Regions from separate parts of the Homo sapiens genome. Here region 1 is linked to region 2. Evidence: fine-mapped expression QTL. Tissue or cell type: whole blood. Region 2 holds a variant in brackets; the other region holds the start of a gene. All regions are shown on one strand. Distances are from middle to middle.

Region 1 (11,110 bases), 250 kb before region 2:
TTTAATCATCATTTCATAGCCAAGTCCTTCTCTGTTCTTTAGCAGAAATTTTAAAAAGATGTGTTAAGTAGTAGCAAGACTGGTGTGAGGACAATATTTTTTTTCCAACAGGAACTTCCCTGTTTGAATTATTAGGGTAATGTGAAATGCATTTTCTTTTCTTTTCTCCTCCTTTTTTTGGTCATTAAAGTAATAAATGCTTCAGTTGATGGTATAAATAAATCTTTGTGTGTATCTGATTATATCTAAATGTGAAATTGCTACATCAAATTGATTTCAAGATAGATCACAACAGTTTGTAATATAGATGAGTGACTAAACATTGCACCATTAACAGTATGAATTTTATGAAATAAATATTTGCTTTTTCTGTCAGGTTGGTTTTTACTCTGATTCCATTCATTTGGTCAATTTTGCTTTAGATATTTTGAAGGTATATTATTGAAAGCTGTGAATTTTCTTTAAGAATTGGTCACCCTTTCATTATTAAACAAATAACCTTATTATCTTTTATAATCCTTCTTGTCTTTAAATCTAATTGATGTAATATTGATGTAGTTTCATGAGCTTTCTTTTGCTTAATGTCTTATGGTATTTATTTTCCCATTTTTTCATCTTTAGACTTTCTATAAACTTATAACTAAATTGTATATTTTTAAGTAGATTTATGTGTTTAAATGTTATCTGCCAACATTAGTTTATTACTTGAACTATTAAACTATTTAATTTTTATTTGTAAAAATTATTTCATTTAAATTATTTAATTTAAATTACATTTAAATTATTTCATTTAATTACATTTAAATTATTTCATTTAAATGTAATTATTTCATTTAAATTATTTTAAGAGTATAATTGAGTTTATGTATACCATCATAATGTTTGCTAGCAATTTTGAGGTTCTTTTTCTTTTCTTTCTCGTCTTTTTTGGATTAATTAATTTTATCATTCATTTACCATTTTTAGTGGCTTTCCTAGAAATTACATGTGTTTTTATTTATTTAACTCTGATATTAAACATCACTTTTGCAACTTCTCTAGAAGGCTAATGCTTTAGAACATTTTAACTTCATTATCAGTTTTGCTTTTGCATTACTGCTATATTTTACAATATATTGCATGAACTATATATAGTGCAGATATATTCAAAACTCCACAAGCCATTAATTATTGTTTTGGGAACTCAATATATTCAGTTCACTGACATATTCACCCTCTTCATTCCTTCCTGTGGTCTTGACTTTCTGTCTGAGATCATTTTACTTTCGCCTGCAGAACACCCTTTATAGTATTTCTTTTAGTGAGAGTTTACTGGTGATGAATTTTCTTAGTTTTTGTTTGTCTGAAAATGTCTTTATTTTGCTGTTGCTTTCATGCGTCTCTGGATTTAGAATATCAAGTTGGTAGTTGGTTTCTTTCAGCATTTTAATGATGGTATTCCATTGTGTTCTACCCTTATTGGTTTTTGTTAGTAAGTCAGCTATCATCTTATTGGTGATCCTTTGAAAGTGACAATTTCTTTTCTTCAGAGTGCATTTAAGATATTCTCTTTGACTTTGGCTTTTTAACGTTTTAGTATGATGTTCCTTAGTGTGCCTTCTTTTGCATTTATCCTCCTTGGTGGTGTTGGCAAGGCTTGAATCTATGGATTGATGCCTTTTTCAACTTTGGAAAATCTTCAGCTATTATCTCTTAAAATATTTCTTCTCCCACTATTATTTCTCCTCTCACGTTGGGACTCAGTTTACATATAAGATCTTTCCACTATGGCTGAAATATCTCTCTGCAGAGACACAGAGATAGATAGATAGAGAGAGAGAGAGTGAGAGAGAAAGAGAGAGAGCAGATATTTCCTACGCTCCCATTTCCAGTTCAACAATCCTCTCTTACTGTATGTCCCATTTGCTGTTAAAACCAATTATTGAATTTTTAATTTCAGTTACTGTATTTTTTAACTCTAGAATTTTCATCCGATACTTTCTATAGATGGCAGTTCTTTTCTCCTTCTTGTCTTCTAGTTTTGAACATGTTTATCAAAATTATCTTAAATTGCAGGACTAATAATTCCAATATCGGAATTACCCCATGAGTTTGTTTCTGTGGTCTCCCTTCTCTCTGTCTTTCTCTGTCCTGTCTTCTGGCATTCCCATTCATTTCATACTTAATTATAGATGTTGTATTTTTAAATATTACAGAAGTTCTGGCTGCTTTTCCTCAACAGGAGGATTTACATTTGCTTCTATCTGGCAGCAAGAATAGGGGCAGACCACTTTAATCCAATGAGGGATTGAGCTAATTTTAGTCTAAGCTTCAGTTTTTGTAAAGCTAGTTCTATTTATAGGCAACCCTTTCTCTTAGGAAGCAGCCTTCAGGAGCCCCAACTGAGAACACAGGCATTTGTTGTGACTCCTGCTCCCTCCTTGGCTGGCCCTGGCTTCCCAGTTCTGCAAGACTGCTGAAAGCACTCCTTGGCTTCTTCAGCTTCCTACCAACCATGCTCTTGTTTGTGTCTCATACAATCAACCCTGTACTGCTTTCAATGAGCAAAAAAATTTTAAGGGGAAAAAGTGGTGCTGAGCAATACCTTTCTCTGACTTTTCCTGGAGGAATTGCTACTTCCCAAAGTCCAATTTATTTTGGTCTCTTTTGCTATGTGAAACTGCCAAAAACTCAACTCAGGTTCTCTCCTCCTGAGCCACCAGTTTTTGCCTTCTCAGACTCTCTCTTGGTGCCAGTTACTAACCCATAAAAGCCTTGAGGGAAAAGAAGTGCAGAATATGGAGTTCCTCTAATGGTTCTGCTCTGCTTTACAGGATCTTGGCCTCTCATGTTCTGCACCCTGACAGCTCTCTTGTTTCTTAAAACAGCTTTTTTAAAAAGTATACAGCTCTTCTAGGTGCCTTTGGTAGAAAACGTGGTCAGATACAAGCTCATAGCCAGAAATAGAAGTCTTTGAATATTTTTATTTTGCATATTGACTAACAAGTGGCCTTTACCCACCTAAGCCATTGTTTATTTGAAGGATGTGCTTTTTTTTTTTTCTATTTTGTTCAAACTCCTTTTTGATTTACAGGAGTATTTCATAAGTTAGTTGTCAAATATATTATTAGTTTTTTCCTTCAATTACTACTCAGAAATAGTTATTTTCTTACCCTTTTCCAGACATTTTCCTATTTTTCCCCTCTGGTTTATTTTTATTTAAATTTAATTTTAAAATGTATCTAACTTTAATTTCATTGCATGGAAAGTTAGGGAAATTTTCTCCCCAATTATTTAACAACCATTTGTTGAATAAAACATTCTTTCCCACTGCCTTGGAATTTCACCTTTTTCAAATAGTAAATTATTATATACAGTCTAGTTTTTTTTTTAAAATTCTCGTTAATCTATTATTACACCTATAACATGCTGTTCTAATGACCAAACTTCAATAATTCATTTTACTTGATGATTCAAGTACTCTTGAACTCATTGCTCTTCTTTGTCAACCTTAACTTGGCTGCTCACATCAGGATTTTTTTGCCTGTGTGTCAGAAGTGATTACGATCTGGTCTAAAGCAGTAGCAGTGGGGATATAGAGCAAAGACAGAGTGAGTGGTACTGAGTATTGCCATCTATAGGGCCTGATGGATTTAACGGCTAGAGAAAAAAAATGGCATCTCACATGATTCTAAGCCTTCCGGCTTGGGAAACTAAGAGAATAGCAGTGTCATTAATTAAGACTGAGAATACGAAGATGATTATCACAGAGAGAGCGTCATCTGTCGCGAGAGCAGAAGCAGATGGAGCCTAGGTAATTGTAAGAGATTGGTGATACGAAATGGCTGTTTGGCTAGTAGGATAGAAATTTGACTTGGGAATATTAAAAAAATAAGTGATATCCAGCTTGCATTAGATATCAAATGAAATGTATTGTGGCATCAGTTCTAACGGATTCATAATTTTTAAGGAGCAGTCCACAGAAGCCTCTTTCATGTATTCATCCACATGAAATACACTACTAGGCTGTAAACTGTGGGGAGGGGTATGGAAGGCAGACAGATCAAGGGTAGGACATTTTTGGACAAAAAAGTTGCCAGTGAGGAATTTGAATCTAATGATAGTAAACCTGTTGATGTGGTCAATCGTAAATTCTACTTTTATAAAGAAAGAAATGAAGCTGGACTGATTATTGAAAATGTCAAATAGGATTACAAAGAGTTGAAACAGTTTTATAAGCTCCATATCAAAACTAGGCAGTTTTTATCTTTCTAGGTCATTTACATGATGGCCATGGTAGAACTGAGATGTCCCCTGACCCTCTGTATGTGGCTATGCTCTCTGCAGCCTAAGGCCAAAACAGTTAATAGATAAGTGCCTGGGTTTGGTTACTAAAGAAAACGTGTAGATTCCTGTCATCTTTCAAGTGTATACATACCAACCAGTATTCTTTATTTTTTTTTTTTTTTTTTTTTGAGACAGAGTCTTGCTGTGTCATTCAGCCTGGAATGCAGTGGCATGTTCACAACTCACTGTAGCCTCAAACTCCAGGGCTCAAGTGATCCTCCTTCCTCAGCCTCCTCACAGCTGGGACTACAGGCATGTGCCACCATGCCTGGCTAATTTTTTAATTTTTTTGTAGAGACAAAGTCTCACTATGTTGCCCAGGCTGGTTTTGAATTCTTGGGCTCAAGCAATTCTCCTACCTCAGCCTCCTAAAGTGCTGGGACTACAGGTATGAGCCACCGTACCCAGCCTCAACCAATATTCTTCTACTTTACCTTAAAGAGACTTAGGAACTACCACCTTTAATTGTATATATTTTAAATATTGTTTCAGTTACATGCAAAAAATAGAGAGGGGCAGGATTTTGAAGAGATCAATGTTCATGAGTTTTCTCCTGCTTCCTTTGGTGCTGATCATTTCCCCTCCTAAATTTCAACAATAAGATCAGAATTGTGGAATTGTGAACTTGGAAGAAATTATAAAATTTATTGGACTCTTCTACTTCATCTCCATTTAGTAAATAAAACAAATGAAAATCAGAGAAGACAAGGCTGACGTTAGCCTGTAAATCAAAAGCAGAACTAAACCCAGAAAATGCAGGTTTCCTGACAAGTAATTTTAATACTTTCTACTATAGTGTAGAGATTAGAAAACTCATTTTAATGTACTTTGTTAATTTACTGTATCATTTTGCATATTCTATCCCTACCCTACCCTCCTTTAAGATTCAGCAAAATTTTTAATGTGGAAGAATAAAAAGTGGTTTCAATACTCTCTCCAGAGTATAGTATCAGAATTCTAAAAAGAGCTGACGCAAAGCACTTTTATTACCAATTTTAATGTAAAGGCACTGACAGTATGCAAATAAGGCACAAAGCCAAGCTTTAGAAATGAACTAGAGAGATAATGAATTCACATGGTGCCATTTTTAAGATTAGACTTTAGTCCTATATTCCTGTTCTTTGTTGGTGGGCAAGCCACAAGCAACTCTGACCTCAGTTTTGCTACCATAGTAGATGCACACCTGGATTAACAAAGGACAGAATGCGCTACTTAGCACGTCTCATTTTTTGGGCAGTGTCTGTTCACCCCACCCCCATCCTGTTCAACTTCAATGTCAGAAGGAAATGAAGCCACAATGTGAACAAAAAGAGCTATAACATTTTTTGTCTCCTGCTTCCCCCCTCCCTCTTCATTGTCCTCCCCACATAGAGCTACTCCACCCCACTCTGGCTGTAGTGTGACATTCCTGCCTGCCTGAGGAAGAAATGGTGAGCAGGGGCTGCAATTGCAGACAAGTGTCACCCAGAAGCCACAAGTTTCTGTGAGCACCAGGTCTACAAACTACCCAAGGCATAGCAATGGCATTATCACTGGAAGAATTCGTCCACTCCCTTGACCTCAGGACCCTACCCAGGGTTCTAGAAATCCAGGCAGGCATCTATCTTGAAGGTAAGCACTCTCCAATACCTTTACTGGCTAGAACATTCTTGTAAAGTATACATTTTTGAAAATTGGAGGGGGGGAATTTTAACAGCAAATATGTGAGTTCTGGTAAAGGAAAGGCGATCACAAAAGAAAGTAATGAACTGACCAACGAATCGTCAAAAGCCAATGGTGTTGGAGAGGGGAGAAACTAGACAGGACTCTGGGACAGACAGAAATAAGGAATTGAGTGAAGCTTCTTGAGCTTTCTGTAGGCCTTGAATGGTGAACTATTTCTGCCTTTGCTTTGAAATTGGTTGTAATCAAGAATAATAAATTTAGTTATCAATATTTATGTTTCCACAATATAAAAAATAAAATTTAGCTTGCTAAAACAAAAGCAACTATCAAAGGCACAGTGTTTAGAAAGAAGTATTTCCAAATATTTCCCAAACTTTTAGCTCCTAAATGTTGCTTATACCAATGTTTTTCTCACTCTGTAGTGGCCTAACTCCAAATTCCTTAAATAATGAAAATTTTAATTTGAAGGTATAGAAATTATTGCTACAAGATAATTTTTAAAAATTGATGTTGAAACTCAGAGTTCAATTAAACTTATTGAATAATAAGATAGTGAGTTTTGGTGTAACTCACTATGTTAATTCAGGTGAAAGAACATTATAACCTCCAATATACAACCTAGAATCTTTACATGGTTAGTTTGAATACATAGAATACAATTAATAATTCTGTAGGTGTATTTCTGGCCTCAAGAGTGGTAGAATTGAAGCAGTTGTAGAAACAGATCAAGACAAAACTACCAGGAAAATAACTTAACTGTTGGTAGGCAGGTCTTTCTTGTTCGTAGACAAAATAATGTATTACATATTATGTTGCAAAGTAAAAGAAAGATTAACACGTCAGCTCCAGTTTTTATATATATTATATATATATATATATATATAAAATATACACACACATACTTGCAGGTGATGAATTGATATGGGCTGTTATCAGCTTAGTGTACAGTTTTATTTAACTAATTTGTAAGTTGATTTTTGGAATCAGACTATGTTTTGCCGTGTATAATCATATTATCAATGTCTCTATTTCTAAGCCAGCCCCAAATCATTTTTTGTCTCATGGTTTGTGTTTTTTAGGCTTTACGTAAAAAGTCTTTCTTTATGTCTACTTTAAAAAGATATTTTCCTATGTTGTTTTTATCAACTTTACGGTTTCATATTTTGCATTTAGTTTTTAGTCTATTTGGAGGACAATGTTATGAATTGTACAGGGATCCAATTTTAGTTTTCTCTATACAGTTCACCTGATTTCCAGGTACCATTTGCTAAGCTGACAATCTTTCCGCCATTGATTTTTGTTGCCTCCTTCAAATCATATTATATGTTCACCTCTGTATCAGTCTGTCTCTAAAATATCTCTTCTATTCCATTAGTTTATTTTTTTTCTTAGCTGCCCCCAAACACACTATTTTTGTAACTATGGCCTTGCAATACATGTTAATATAGAAATGATGTATAGACCAATCCCTTGTTTTCAATCCTTTTTTCCTAAATTGGCTTAGATATTCATAGACTTTAAAAATGTTTTTATAGATACATAATATATATACATATTTATGGGATACATGTGATATTTTGATACAGTGTGTAATAATCAAGTCAGAGTAATGGGGATATTATTCATTGCCTCAAACTTTTACCATTTCTTCATGTTAGGAACATTCCAATTCCACTACTCTAGTTGTTTTGAAATATACAGTAAATTATTTTTAGCTATAGTCACCCTATTGTACTACCAAACACTAGATCTTATTCCTTTTAACTGTGTTTCTGTACCCATTAATCAACCAACCCCTCTCTATCCCCCTCCCACTACCCTTCCCAGCACCTGGTAGCCATCATTCTACTCTCTATCTCCATGATATCAATTTTTTTAGCTCCCACAAATTAATGAGAACATGTGATATTTGTCTTTCTGTGCCTGGCTTATTTCACTTAACCTAATGTCCTTCAGTTCTATCCATGTTGTTGCAAATGACAGGATTTCATTCTTTTTTATGGCTGAATAATATTCCACATTTTATTTGTCTATTCATCTGTTGATGGACATTTAAGTTGATTTCATATTTTGGCTATTGTAAAAACATGTGAATGCAGGTATCTGTAATATATTGATATCTTTTCTTTTGAATATATATCCAGCAGTGGGATTACTAGGTTGTAAGTAGTTCTATTTTTGTGTGTGTGTGTGTGTGAAAACTTCACACTGTTTCTCATAGTGACTGTACTGATACACATTCCCATCGAGTATAAACGTTCCCTTTTCTCCACATCCTCTCAAACATCCATTATTTTTTATCTTTTTGATAAAAGCTATTTTAACTGAAGTGAGATAATATCTCATAACTTTTTCAATGAGTTTTTATTAAATCAATTGATTCTATAAGAAATCTAACTGGGATTTTTATTGGATTTATTGATTTGGTAGATTAAGTTGGAAAGAATTGACATTCTATATTGTTTTAAGAAAGAATGTAGTGTCCCTCTATGTGTCCAGACCATCTTCTTCATACCTTATTATTTTACTACTATGTTTTACTTCAATTAAGAGGGAAAAAACTAAATACCTTGATCATTTTCACAGTGTAAACACATTCATGTAACTGCCACCCTGGTCCAGAAATAGAAAATTCCAAGTATTCCAGAAGCCCTATCCTGTGCTCTTTCTCAGTCATTATATACTATCTCCCTCAAGTGTAACCACTATCATGACTTTTGTCCATTTATGACCCTTACATAAATGGAAAATTACAGTATGTATTCTTTTCTGGTTGGTATATCTGTTTAACATTATATTTGTGAAACTAATCCATGCTGTTTTATATATAGTTCATTCATTTTCAGTGTATGTTATTCCATTAGATGAATATACTACAATTTATGTATTAATTCTACTGCCAATAGGCATTTGGATTATTTCTGGCTTGGAGTTTCCAGTAATTTTGTCATGAAAATTCTTGTACATGTGTGCCTACGTGTATATGCATTAAGTAGGGCATAAAAGTAAGTAGGATTACTATGTCATATTGTGTGTGTACATTCACCCTTGGAAGCTAATGAAAAGCAAGTTTCTTAAGTAACCCAATTTACTTTCCTACAAGCAGTATATTTGTGTTCCAATTAACTCATATGCTTAGTAACACGATATTATCAGTCTTCTTAATTTTAGTCATTCTGGCAAGAGTATAGTGGTAGCTCATGGTTTTAGTTTTCATCTCCTTGATGACTAATAAGATTGAGCACCTTTTCATATATTTCTTGGATTTTTGGAAATACTCTTTTTTGCAGAGGTGGTTTATATTTCTTGCTCATTTTTCTGTTGAATTTTATACATTTTTGTTATTGATTTGATGGAGTTTATGTGTATATATATATTTGGGATATTTACTCTTTGTCAATTTTCTGTGTTGCAAATTACTTTCTTAGTCTATAGTTTCATATTTTATTTTCAAAATTGTGTCTTTTAATGGACGAAAGTTTTCCACTTTCGTGTTAGTGTAGTCAGTTTATATTTTCCTTTTTCTGTGTTGTCAACAATTTTTTTCTTTACCCTAAGTTCATGAAAATATGTATTATCTTCTAGAAATCCTATTGTTTACCCTCACCTTCAGATCTGTAGTCTATCTGGGTTTATGTTTTTGTATATGGTTTGAAGTTGAGAGCAATATTTATTTTTCTCTTCTACAGAGTCAATTGGTGCAGTGACATTTATTGAAAAGCTGCCTTTTCTCTATCATCTTACTCTGTTAACCTTACTCAGAAATAGTGTCCATACATGCCTGGGTCTTTTCCCTTTTATGCTGTTCTATTCATCTACTTGCTATCCTTACATCAATTTTTCCTGTCTTAAATAATGTGGATATGCAATATCTAATATATACTTTCTATTAGATTATATTTAATAATATGCTACAGAGCCATGGTTCTCAAACTTGGTTGTGAAATAAAAATACCTGGATTGATTTTAAAATATAAATGCCTAGGTTTCTCCTCAAGAGGTAAAGATTTAATTATGTAAAAGGTAAGGCATCACCATCAGTTTTTGAAAATCTTCCTGATGATTATAACACACAGCCAAATTTGATAACTACTGCTTTAGAACAAGTTCTCTCAATTTATTATTCCTCTTTAAGTTTAGCACTTTGAATTTTCACATACATTTTAGAATTAACTTATCAACTTCCTCAAAAGTCCTCCTGGAATTTTGATTAGCTGTGCTTTGGTTTGGAGAAAATTGGCATCATTTTAAATTAAGTCTTCTGACCCACTAATCTGGTATAGCTCTTTAGTTATTTAAGTCTATTTCATTTCTGTCAATAACATTTTATAATTTTTTGTACAGATCTTGTATTTTTTCAGATTTATTCTTAGTTATTTGATTTTTTCATGCCATTTTAAATGGTATTTTTAAAATCATTTTCTCTTTGTTGTACTTATTGAATTTTAAGAATATATCTTTAACATTTTGTATATGTTATGTGTACATTTGCATTGTCTGTGAATATTGATGGATTTTGCTTCTACTATAATACTGAATAGAGGTAATGATAAAAAAAAGATCTCTGTATTTCATTCATGACCACTGAGAGCAATTTTCAGTAATCCACCATTCATGATGTTTGTTTTAGGTTAAATTAGTTCTAGTTTTCTAACAGGTTTTAAAAACTTGAATATATATTTGACATTTATCAAATATTCTTTTTGTAACTTTTATGATAATTACATAGTTTTTTTTACATTAAAAAGTGTTAAACATGCTTTTAATTGTGGAACACAACCAATGGGGTCATATTTCACTGAATTTGGCTTACTATTTTTTTTTGTTAGAATGTTTGTATCTCTTTTAGGGAATAATATTGGCTTATAGTTTTTATTTTTTTGTAATATCCTAGCCAGGCTTTATTATCAAGTTAGTTGAACTTACGGAACTTCTTGGTTGGAGTCTTTTGTTATTTTCCTAAAGATTTTATGTAACTTTGGTGTTATCGCTTATTTAAATATTTAGTAGAATTTTCAATGAAGGCCTCCTGAGCTGAGATTTCTAATATAGAAATGTTTTAAATTATGACTTCAATTTTTTAATAGTAAAGTCTTTTTATCCATGAGCATAGTTTATC
Region 2 (11,110 bases):
AAACATACATGTGCATGTGTCTTTATAGTAGCATTATTTATAATCCTTTGGGTATATACTGAGTAATGGGATCACTGGGTCACAAGACAGACCTATTAAAACATTCCAGGGACATAAGAATGAAGTAAATGCTATCAAATGGGACCCAACTGGCAATCTCCTGGCCTCTTGTTCTGATGACATGACTTTAAAGATATGGAGTATGAAACAAGACAATTGTGTCCATGATTTGCAAGCACATAATAAAGAAATTTATCCTATCAAATGGAGTCCAACAGGACTTCATCCACATCCCTGCAAAGGACATGAATTTATCCTTGTCCTGCTTTATTAGGAGGGATTTCAATATCTCCATCCACTTCCATCGTATCAGTATGATTATTTGCTATAATATGTGCTCCATTCTCCTCCCCATTTGCTGTGTTTTCTGCATTTTTTTTTTTTTTTTTTTTTTTTTTTTTTTTTGCAGATCCTTGTTGGTTGGCTGTGGCAGCTGCTGCCTGTTGCTGTTTAAGCTTATCGCTATAAGCTTGTTGTCTTGTTTGTACTACATCAGGCATTAAGGCGTCTATCAGGGACAGACTCATTGGTCGACCATCAAAGAAAGTACCATCCTCATTAATACTAACTTCTGCTTCTACATACTGTAGACCTTTCTGGATGATAGAAATCAATGCAGCAGGTGGGACGAGGGCACCATTTATATTGGACTGACTGATACGGCTTTCTATACCGAAGGTAAATGCTGAATGAGAAGCCTGTGTACAGTGTAGCTTTCAGTCCTGATGGCCGGTATCTGGCCAGCAATTCTTTTGACAAATGTGTACACATCTGGAACACACAGACAGGTGCTCTAGTTCACACTGTAGGGGAACAGATGGAATTTTTGAAGTTTGCTGGAATGCCGCAGGAGACAAAGTTGGAGCCAGTGCATCAGATGGTTCAGTTTGTGTATTAGACTTTCGGAAATAGCGCTACTAGTTGGAAGCCATGGACCAACTATGAATGTGTACATAGCCAAAATGACTGTCCCTGACCCACGTACTGCTATAGTCCCACTTGAACCATGGCCAGTCGACTACAGCCAAATCTAAAAGAAATATAGGCTGGGCGCAGAGGCTCATGCTTGTAATCCCAGCACTTTGGGAGACAGAGGCAGACGGATCAAGGGTCAGGAGTTCGAGACAAGCCTGGCCAATATGGTGAAACCCTGTCTCTTCTAAAAATACAAAAATTAGCCGGGCATGGTGGTGCGTGCCTGTAGTCCCAGCTACTCGGGAGGCTGAGACAGGAGAATCGCTTGAACCTGGGAGGCGGAGGTTGCAGTGAGCAGAGATTGTGCCACTGCACTCCAGACTAGGCAACAGAGCGAGACTCCTTCTCAAAAAAAAAAAAGAAAAGAAAAGAAAAACAGAAAGAAATATATACATACAATGTATATAAACAAAATTGCACCCTGAAGATGACAGTTTTGTCACAGCTTGTGAATTCTGTTCACCAAGTGCTGGAATCTAATCTACTGTGCCCCTAAAATAGCATTTAGAAGTTTTGGATATGAAAAACAGAAGAGAGAAAAATACACATTATAAAAGCAGAACATACATGTACCAGTTTTTGGATACCACCTGACAGCCTCGTTTCTCCCCTTTGAATCCGCAGACACCAAGGATTATATTCTTTTTTCCCTTCAGTAGTGAGCAGTTTGTATGTACAGAGAAAATGGACACAAAAACTTGCAGTGGTAGTTTGTTCTTGCTTTAAAATTTTGTTTTTGGTTTAGATTATGGGTGCATGAAGTAAGGGAATGAATCAGTTTCTTGTTTATATTTTTTCAGCTTTTAAACAACAAAAAATTCTTTAAAATATTTTAATGCATTCTTTTGAAGAGGTAGATGTTTGGTACATTTTATGGCTCCCAGAGCACATATTCAATTGGTGCATGTTGTGGAAGGGAGAATTGGAAATTAAATGAAAACATGACTTTGGTCATGTCAGTCTGTAAGACACATCCATAAAAGGTGTATTATGTTCTGTTGGTTTTGGTTCTTTGTTTGTTTGTTTTTTCTTTTTAGGCGATGTGGCATAAATGCAATAGTTTCTTTTGGGGGACATATTTCTACCAATTAAAGACTAGAAGGGCACAAAATGTTGTTGTTGTTGTTTTAATTACCATAGAGAAAATACCTTTTTAAAAAATTGGCTGGATGCAGTGGCTCACACCTATAATCCCAGCACTTTGGGAGGCCAAGGCGGGTGAATCACCTGAGGTCAGGAGTTCTTGACCAGCCTGGCCAAGATGGTGAAACACCATCTCTACCAAAAATACAAAAATTAGCCAGGCGCAGTGGCGGGCGCCTGTAATCCCAGCTACTCAGGAGGCTGAGGCAGGAGAATCGCTTGAACCCGGGAGGCGGAGGTTGCAGTGAGCAGAGATCGCGCCACTGCACTCCAGCCTGGGTGACAGAGCGAGACGCCAACTCAAAAAAAAAAAAAAAAAAAAAAAAAAAAAAAAAAAAACCACTTCTGATGTTTTGTAGCCATAAATAAATTATGGTAAAAATGTGCACTATTGTGAAAAGGAGCAAAGTAGTTTTGGGTTTTTTGTTGTTTGTTTGTTTGTTTGTTTGTTTTGCTTTTTTTTTGAGAGATTGAAATGTTTCTGGGTAAGGATTCGCTTCTCGAATTGTCTATCATTCTGTGTAGAAGCTTAAATATGTAATGTAACCAAACTCCACTATTAGAAATCTCTCATGTTGTTTTCTTTATACAAAGCAAGATAACGGCATATAACACTTCCATTACATGGCAAAATGTTTGCTACCTTAGTTTAAAAAACAATCTCTAAAACAAAAGACTTGCTTCAAGGTGTTTTTAAATAGCAGTGATTGCGATTTTTTTTTTTATGAAAGTATAATTGCACTAACCTTCTGCCTGCTGCTCTGATTCTGCACTTGTGATACTTGTGACTACATTTTTTCAAATATAGATAGATTTAAGCAGCTAATTTTTGTTTCAGTATCACTACTTTATCATGTCTTTTACTCTGTTTATAATATCAAGTATTTTCTTAAAGACATAGACATTAAATTAAACCTCTTGTTCTCATGCAACTAAGAGTAACATATACAGACAAACGATTGCATGAGGCCATGTTTATAAGTGTGACTAATAAGGCTTGTCATGATTAGTATAATCCAGGTATGTCATCTCTAAAGAGAAAGGTCATCAAATTTATATCTCAAAGATTTTAATCAAGGAATTCCTTATTGTTGAGCTTGGCAAATTAATAACACTATTTCTGTCATGAATTATTTTGAGGCCTTTTAGTACTAAAGTTTAAGTAGAAACTGGCTTAACCCAAGGAATGCAACTTTGATTTTCAGCAATTGTTGCTTTGCTATTTTTACAAAACAGCATTGATTGAAGCAACTCTTGGTTTTACCAAGGTAGGGTAGCATTTGCTATTGGTAGAGATTATAAATACACTTAATTTCACAATACATTGTTATATGTATCCCAGTTGTTGTTAGTGGGGACTATGATACCGTAATAATATTTTTAAAAATTTACATACAGGCCTGGCGCGGTGGCTCATGCCTGTAATCCCAGCACTTTGGGAGGCCAAGGTGGGCAGATCACGAGGTCAGGTGTTGGAGACCAGCCTGGCCAACATAGTGAAACCCCGTCTCTACTAAAAATACAAAAATTAGCCGGGTGAGGTGGCATGCGCCTGTAGTCCCAGCTACTCAGGAAGCTGAGGCAGGAGAATCGCTTGAACCCAGGAGGCGGAGGTTGCAGTGAGCCGAGACCACACCATTGCACTCCAGCCTGGATGACAGAGTGAGACTCCATCTCAAAAAAAAAAAAAAATTTGCATCAGTAGAGGCAGTCATTCACGATGGTTTTGTGCCAGCTCTTTTTAGGGTTTTGAATCACATTAGAGATATTTAGAACTTCTTAACCTGTGACTTCTGTAGGAAACCTAATATGCTGAATATCTGGCACTTGAATTCCTGCTTTTATTGCTAGAGGTCCACATCTGTGGTTGATCTCTGTTATTGTTTAAAAATTAAAATTAAAATTAAAAAAAATCTGTGCAAGAATTTTGAAATGTGGTCCCAGCAATAGACCCAAATGTTTTGAGTATCTTTTAAGTTGCATTTTCCTTTAGCAATGCATTTGTCAATTGCACTGAATTTAAACCTGAAAGTCAGAGGTGATTATTGACAGTACTTTTGTATTTTTATATGGACAATTTATTCGTTTGCATTCAGTTATTGACTTTTCCCCAGCTGATCAAAAGATAGTCAAGAAATTCTGCAATATAGCTGCCAAAAGAGACAGCTACATTTTTATTATATTGTCATCTTTTTTTTTTTTCCTGTAGCTATTTTACTTAAGCATAGTAGCCACAATAGGACATACAAAAGGACATATAAAAGACTATAAATACAGAGCTTTATCATCCTGACGTCTTGGGTCTTTTAAGTATACGCTTTTCTGAAAGGCATCCATCTGGTAGGCTTGGGTTCTTCATGAGCATACGATTGTTTATTTTTGCTGCTGTTCTCAACCTCATCATTGCCTGTTGATGTGCCAAGATGCTGCTCCAATAGATAGAAATAAGATTGTCTCTAATTTGAGCA[G/A]TAACACGATTGCAAGAGATGAAGTTTCACACCTTGTAAATTTCTGTATTTGGGATTCTCGCTCATTTTTCCACCTGTGTTTTTCTGAGAACTTATTTCTGATGATCAATTGAATCCAGTAGTTTTTGTTTGCTATTCATTGTTGTATAAGCTACTGTAAGAAACTTACAAGGAAAAATAGAAGGGAAAACTTGAATGAATACTAATTGATTAAAATGAAATAAAGAAAGAGTAGCTGCTACTTTTAAACAACATAAAGGAATATCTTTTTTCGCCTTCATGTAGGAAATCCCATAAGTTCTTATATTTGTTCCAATCCCTATTTCCTGCCATTGACCAGGTAACATCATTGACTTTCAAAAGACTTTTAAACTGGTAACTCTTAACTTCCTAATAGATATTAGAGTGTATTGAATTGTTTTAATTATTCTCTAGGTAAGTATGTTTTAGGATTAAATACCTTTTACAGATACTGAAAGTGACTCCTCTTGTGGTGTAAAAAACAAATTATGGTGCAAAAAGTAATCACTAGATTGAATTACCTGAAGGTATTTTTGCTTTTTGACATATGAAAATGTCAAGAGAAAGGCCAAAGATCTGTAGTTTTTCACTTATAAAACACTCCTTTTTTCCTTAAACTTCTTTCTGTCAAATTAGATTTAATGAGAGAGTACTCTTTTTAAGGAGCTATCAGTTTATGTAGAATGATTTTGTTAAGAGTAATGTAAACTATTATTGAGTAGAGGCCTAAAGGGCACTGTGCATTTTTGCTATTTAAAGGAATCACAAATGACCATAATTAAGTGAGCAAAAATGACAAGTTTTACTAGATAAGTAGACAAATAAATCTCAAATGCAGTGCTACAATTTTCATTATCTTCAGCACATTGTACATTTCTACAGAACCTGTTATTATTCTCACATGCTAAGGATGGTACTTGCATATGGTGAATTACTGTTGACAGTTTCCGCAGAAATCCTATTTCAGTGGACCAACATTGTGGCATGGCAGCAAATGCCAACATTTTGTGGCATAGCAGCAAATCTACAAGACACCCTGGTTAGTTTTTTGTTTTGTTTTCTTTGTTTTTTCCCCCTTCTCCTGAATCAGCAGGGATGGAAGGAGGGTAGGCAAGTTATGAATTACTGCTTCTAGTAGTAGCTCTGAAGTGTCACATTTAATATCAATTTTTTAAAACATGATTCTAGTTAAATGTAGAAGAGAGAAAAAAGAGAAAGTGTTCACTTTTTGAATACACTGATTTAGAAATGTGATGTCTTATATCAGTAGTTCTGAGGTATTGATAGCTTTCTTTATTTCTGCCTTTACGTTAACAGTGTTGAAGCAGGGTAAATAACTAGGGCATTTTTTTTTTCTAGTGAGCTGTTTCGTGATGTTTTCTTTAGAATTTCTGGGTAAGTTCAGGAAAATATTCTGCATGTTGTATCTAGTCTGATGTACTTATCCATCTCATTACAAACAAAAACACGCAGACTGCATTTCGTACCACTGTAATCCTTGAATACAGAAGTAAATTTTCTTCTTTCCTGACTTTGACATTGTAGCTATACTGTTTTCATTTTTATTTTTACAAATCTTTGAGTCTAATTCTTTGAGCCTACCTATAGCACTGGATTAAAATGTCTGCATCATTTCTTTAGTTATCCTGTTAACTTTAAAACTGTTGCAAAAGTTTAAACCAGCCCATGACAGTTTTTTGTACATGTTAAAGAAATTCATTGATCAGTTTTCGTGATTATTGTATAAGGAAGACTGATATAGATGTTCTATGCTGTCCTGGACCATGTTAATTATGCTTATGATGTATTTTGGTTCCACATCACAATGATTTGTCCCCAGGGACCCTTTTATCCTTTCTAGGTACATTTTCGTTGTTGTTGTTGTGTTGTTGCAGTTTCCCTTTGAGAAAGAAAATCTTAAAAATCAACTGAAACAGAAAAGACACAATTTTAAAAACAGGCAAAAGACATGAAAAGGAAATTTGTAAAATAGATATTCAAATGCTACTTTAACATGAAAAAATGCTCAACTTTATTGTTTTACAATATGTGACAATTCATACAGTCTATCGTCAACCAGGGAAGCACACTCAAGCCCAGTGTGTCCAGAGTTTCTATTGGAGGTAAGTCAAATAGGTATGATTGACTTCCTGGGTACTTGACCTGAACCTCCAGCCCCTGCACAGGTCTGGCTGGTACTGCATGAACCAAGGCCCACTCCATAAATTATATTGTTCACACAGACTGTATGGGGTGCCCAAGGCCCCAAGTAAACAAAGACACTCTTATCAGGCACAATATTCCAAGAGCTTAGATGTTGCCTCTTAATAGCCAGGTATAAATAAAAATAAAATTTCAACACCCTCTAATTTTTTTTTACTTTTAATTTCAGGGGTACATAGGTAGGATGCACAGGTTCGTTACATAGGTAAACATGTGTCATGGAGTTTGTTGTATAGATTATTTCATCATCCAGGTATTAAGCCTAGTATCTATTAGTTATTTTCATGATCTTCTCCCTCCCCCACCTCTCCTCCTTCTGGTAGGCCCCAGTGTGTGTCGTTCTTCTCTATGTGTCCATGTGTTCTCATCATTTAGCTCTCACTTACAAGTGAAAACATGTGGTATTTGGTTTTCTCTTCCAGCATTAGTTTGCTAAGGATAATTGCCTCCAGCTCCATCCATTTTCCTGCAAAGGACATGATCTCATTCATTTTTATGGCTGCATAGTATTCTGTAGTGTATACGTATCACATTTTCTTTATCCAGTCCACCACTGATGGGCATTTAGGTTGATTCCATGTCTTTACTATTGTGAATAGTGCTGCAATGAACATAAACATGCATGTGTCTTTATAATAGAATGATTTATATTCCTTTGGGTATGTACCCAGCATATTAGTCCATTTTCATGCTACTGATAATGACATACCCAAGATGGGAAGAAAAAGAGGTTTACTTGGACATACAGTTCCATATGGCTGGGGAGGCCTCAGAATCTGGTGGGAGGTGAAAGGCACTTCTTACAGTGTGGCAGCAAGAGAGAATGAGGAAGAAGCAAAAGCAGAAACCCCTGACAAATCCATCAGATCTCATGAGACATTTTCACTATCATGAGATTAGCATGAGAAAGACCAGCCCTCATGATTCAATTGCTTCCCCCTGGGTCCCTCTCACAATATGTGGGAATTCTGGGAGATACAATTCAAGTTGAGATTTGAATGGAAACATAGCCAAACCGTATCTCTCAGTAATGGAATTGCTGGGTCCAATGGTATTTCTGTCTTTAGGTCTTTGAGGAATCACCACACTGTCTTCAACGATGGTTGAACCAATTTAATTTACACTTCCACCAACAGTGTATGTGTTCTTTTCCTCCACAACCTCCCCAGCATCTGCTATTTTTTGACTTTTTATTAATAGCCATTCTGACTGGTGTGAGAAGGTATCTCATGGTGGCTTTGATTTAAATTTCTCTAATAATCAGTGATGTTGAGCTTTGTTTACATAATTATTGGCTCCATATATGTCTTCTTTTGAAAACTGTCTATTCATGTCTTTTGCCCACTTTTTAATAGGGTTGTTTGATTTTCTCTTGTAAATTTGTTTGAGTTCCTTATAGATGCTGGATATTAGACCTTTGTCAGATGCATAGTTTGCAAATATTTTCTCACATTTTGTAGGTTGCCTGTTTACTCTGTTAATCATTTCTTTTGCTGTGCAGAAGCTCTTAAGTTTAATTAGATCCCATTTGTCAATTTTTGCTTTTGTTGAGGTTGCACCAGGTGTCTTTGTCATAAAATCTTTACCCATTCTTATGTCCAGGATGGTATTACCTAGGTTGTCTTCCAGGATTGTTATAGTTTTGGGTTTTACATTTAAGTCTTTAATCCATCTTTAGTTGATTTTTGTATATGGTGTAAGAAAGGGGTCTAACTTCAATCTTTTGCATATGGCTAGCCTGTTATCCCAGCACCGTTTATTGAATAGGAAGTCTTCACTCCATTGCTTGTTTTTGTCAGTTTTGTTAAAGATCAGATGGTTGTAGGTGTCTGGCCTTATTTCTGGGTTCTCTATTCTGTTCTATTGGTCTATGTGCCTGCCCTTGTACCAGTACCATGCTGTTTTGGTTACTGTAGCCCTATAGTATAGTCTGAGGTCAAGTAGTGCGATGCCTCTGGCTTTGTTCTTTTTGCTTAGGATTGCCTTGGCTAACTGTATTCCTTGGAAATAAATTAACAGAGACTTGTGCTTCATCCCTCCCTAAGCAGAATGTCCATGGTAATTATTAACTTACACCAGATTTCTTTACACATAGGTTAACAACCTATATCAGATCTCCTAGTAAACAAGTGGCTGAATAACAGAGATTCAGTCTATAAAAATGCTTTTTATTCAGATGGCATGCACCAGGACAGTTATTGCAAATAAACATAACGCTTATGGATTTCTGAGGCAGAGCTGGTGATGGGAGTTAATCATATAGGCATTTCTTTATCTGTGTAAGTAACAAAGCATAAAGCTGGGGAGCCCCAAAACTGAAATTGATGTCTTTGAAAACAATGTATTTGCATATATTCTTCAGAAATGTCTGTTAATCCAAGTTGAAACTGCACATTACTTTAGGGAAAAAAAAGACAATTAGGATGCAGTGTATGAATAACTCCCTGTCATCTAAAACTAAATTCTGTCCATGTCTACTTCTGGCTTGAATCCTTAAAATCATTAGTTAAGATTGAGGTTGGAAAATTTTATGATTCATGTGAATTTGCTTTGACATTGTGTTAACATATTCATAATAAGAGAAATGCAAATGAATACTAGGATACCATTTCTCTGCTCTAAAATTAGCAAAAAGATGGACAACTTAAAAGCGTTATTACTGGTGCAGAGAAAAATATTACAACCCTTGCAGGAGAATTCAGCCATATATAACAAACCAACATATACCCTCATCTTTTAAACTTAATTTTTCAATAATTATAGATTTATAGTAAAGTGAAAAGAAATAATACAGGGAGTTCACGTGTACCCTTTCACCTATACTTTCCCAATGTCACCATTTTACATTATCAACATCAGACTGTTGACATTGGTTCACTACCAAAATCAAGATATTAAATACTTAACCATCCATTACCACAAGACTTCCTCATCCTACCTACTTATATCCACACCCACCCTACATCCCACCCTGAGCCCTGGCAATAACTAATATGTACTTCATGGCAATACTTAAGCTATTTCACAAGTGTTATGTAAATGAAAACATGCAACCTGTTTCCTTTTGATATTAGCCTTTTTTGCCATTAAAAACAATTTCCTTAAGGTTCATTCAAGTTGCTGCGTGTATTAATGGTTCATTCCCTTTTATTTCTGAGTTTATGCCATAGATATACCACCTTTGCTTAATTATTCAACCACCGAAGCACATTTGGGCTTCTGAGTACTACAAATTAAGGTGCTGTGAATATCTATTCGTAATTTTCTGAGGGAAAATAAGTTATTTCTCTGAGATGTATGCCTAAGAGGGTAATTGCCAGGTCATATGGTAGGTCCATTTTAGTTTATAAATAACCTCCAAATTATTTCTCACAGTTGATGTACCACATATGAGTGACACTCTCCCCACATCCACACTAGTGTTTGTGTTATCATTATTGCTTTTATTTTAGCCATTCTGATGAGCATTAGTCATATCTTATTGTGGTTTTAGTTTTTATTTCTTCAATGGCCAATGATGTTACACATCTTTGCATGTGCTTATTTGGCATCAGTATCTCTTCTATCAAATGTCTGTTTATGTCTTTTTCTCATCTTCTAATTGGATTGTTTATTGCTGAGTTTTGAGAAATCTTAATATATTCTAGATATTTTGTTGGATATGTGGTTTGCAAATATTTTCTCACAGTCGTCAGCTTATCTTTCCATTTTTTTAACAAACTCTTTCACAGAGTGAATTTTTTAAATTTTCCAGATGTCCGATCAATTTTCCTTTTACATGTTATACTTTTGGAGTCATGTCTAAGACCTCTTCACCTAGTTCTAGGTGCCCAAGATTTTAACCTATTTATTTTCTAGAATTTCATAGTTTTATATTTTATATTTACATTCCTTATGTACTTTGAGTTAGTTCTGGTAGAAGATTGTATTATAGAGTTAGTCGAGACTCTTTTTGCCTAAGGATGTCTAACTGCTCCAGCACCATTTATTTAAAAAGCAATTTCTCTTGCATTAAATTGCTTTTGCAACTTGGTCAAAAACTCATTCAGCATATTTGTGAGGATATATTTCTGGTTTTCCTATTCTGTTCCATTTATCTATGTGTCTATTACTCCAATAGTACCACACTATCTGGATTACTGTGTCTATATAGTATGTTAAGAAGAATGATTTCTCTCACTTTATTCTCCTAGAATAGTGCTATTCTAGGGTCTTCATTT

The links. PIP is the estimated chance that this variant, and not a neighbour inherited with it, causes the effect. A credible set is the group of variants that fine-mapping cannot tell apart.
Region 1: it holds the start of THEMIS, and the variant in region 2 is the best candidate, but not a certain one, in a credible set for the expression of THEMIS in whole blood (INTERVAL, PIP 0.63).

The regions. Positions count from the first base shown.
Region 1 is chr6:127,895,669-127,906,778 of GRCh38, reverse strand. THEMIS (thymocyte selection associated) reads left to right here and starts at 5,721. Exons shown (of 6, transcript NM_001010923.3): 1 at 5,721-5,937. The coding sequence starts at 5,847.
Region 2 is chr6:127,649,552-127,660,661 of GRCh38, reverse strand. It overlaps the pseudogene LOC100421513. Among named protein-coding and RNA genes, the nearest start is that of LINC02536, 8.8 kb to the left of the region's middle. The variant G/A (reference allele first, on the strand shown) is at 4,647.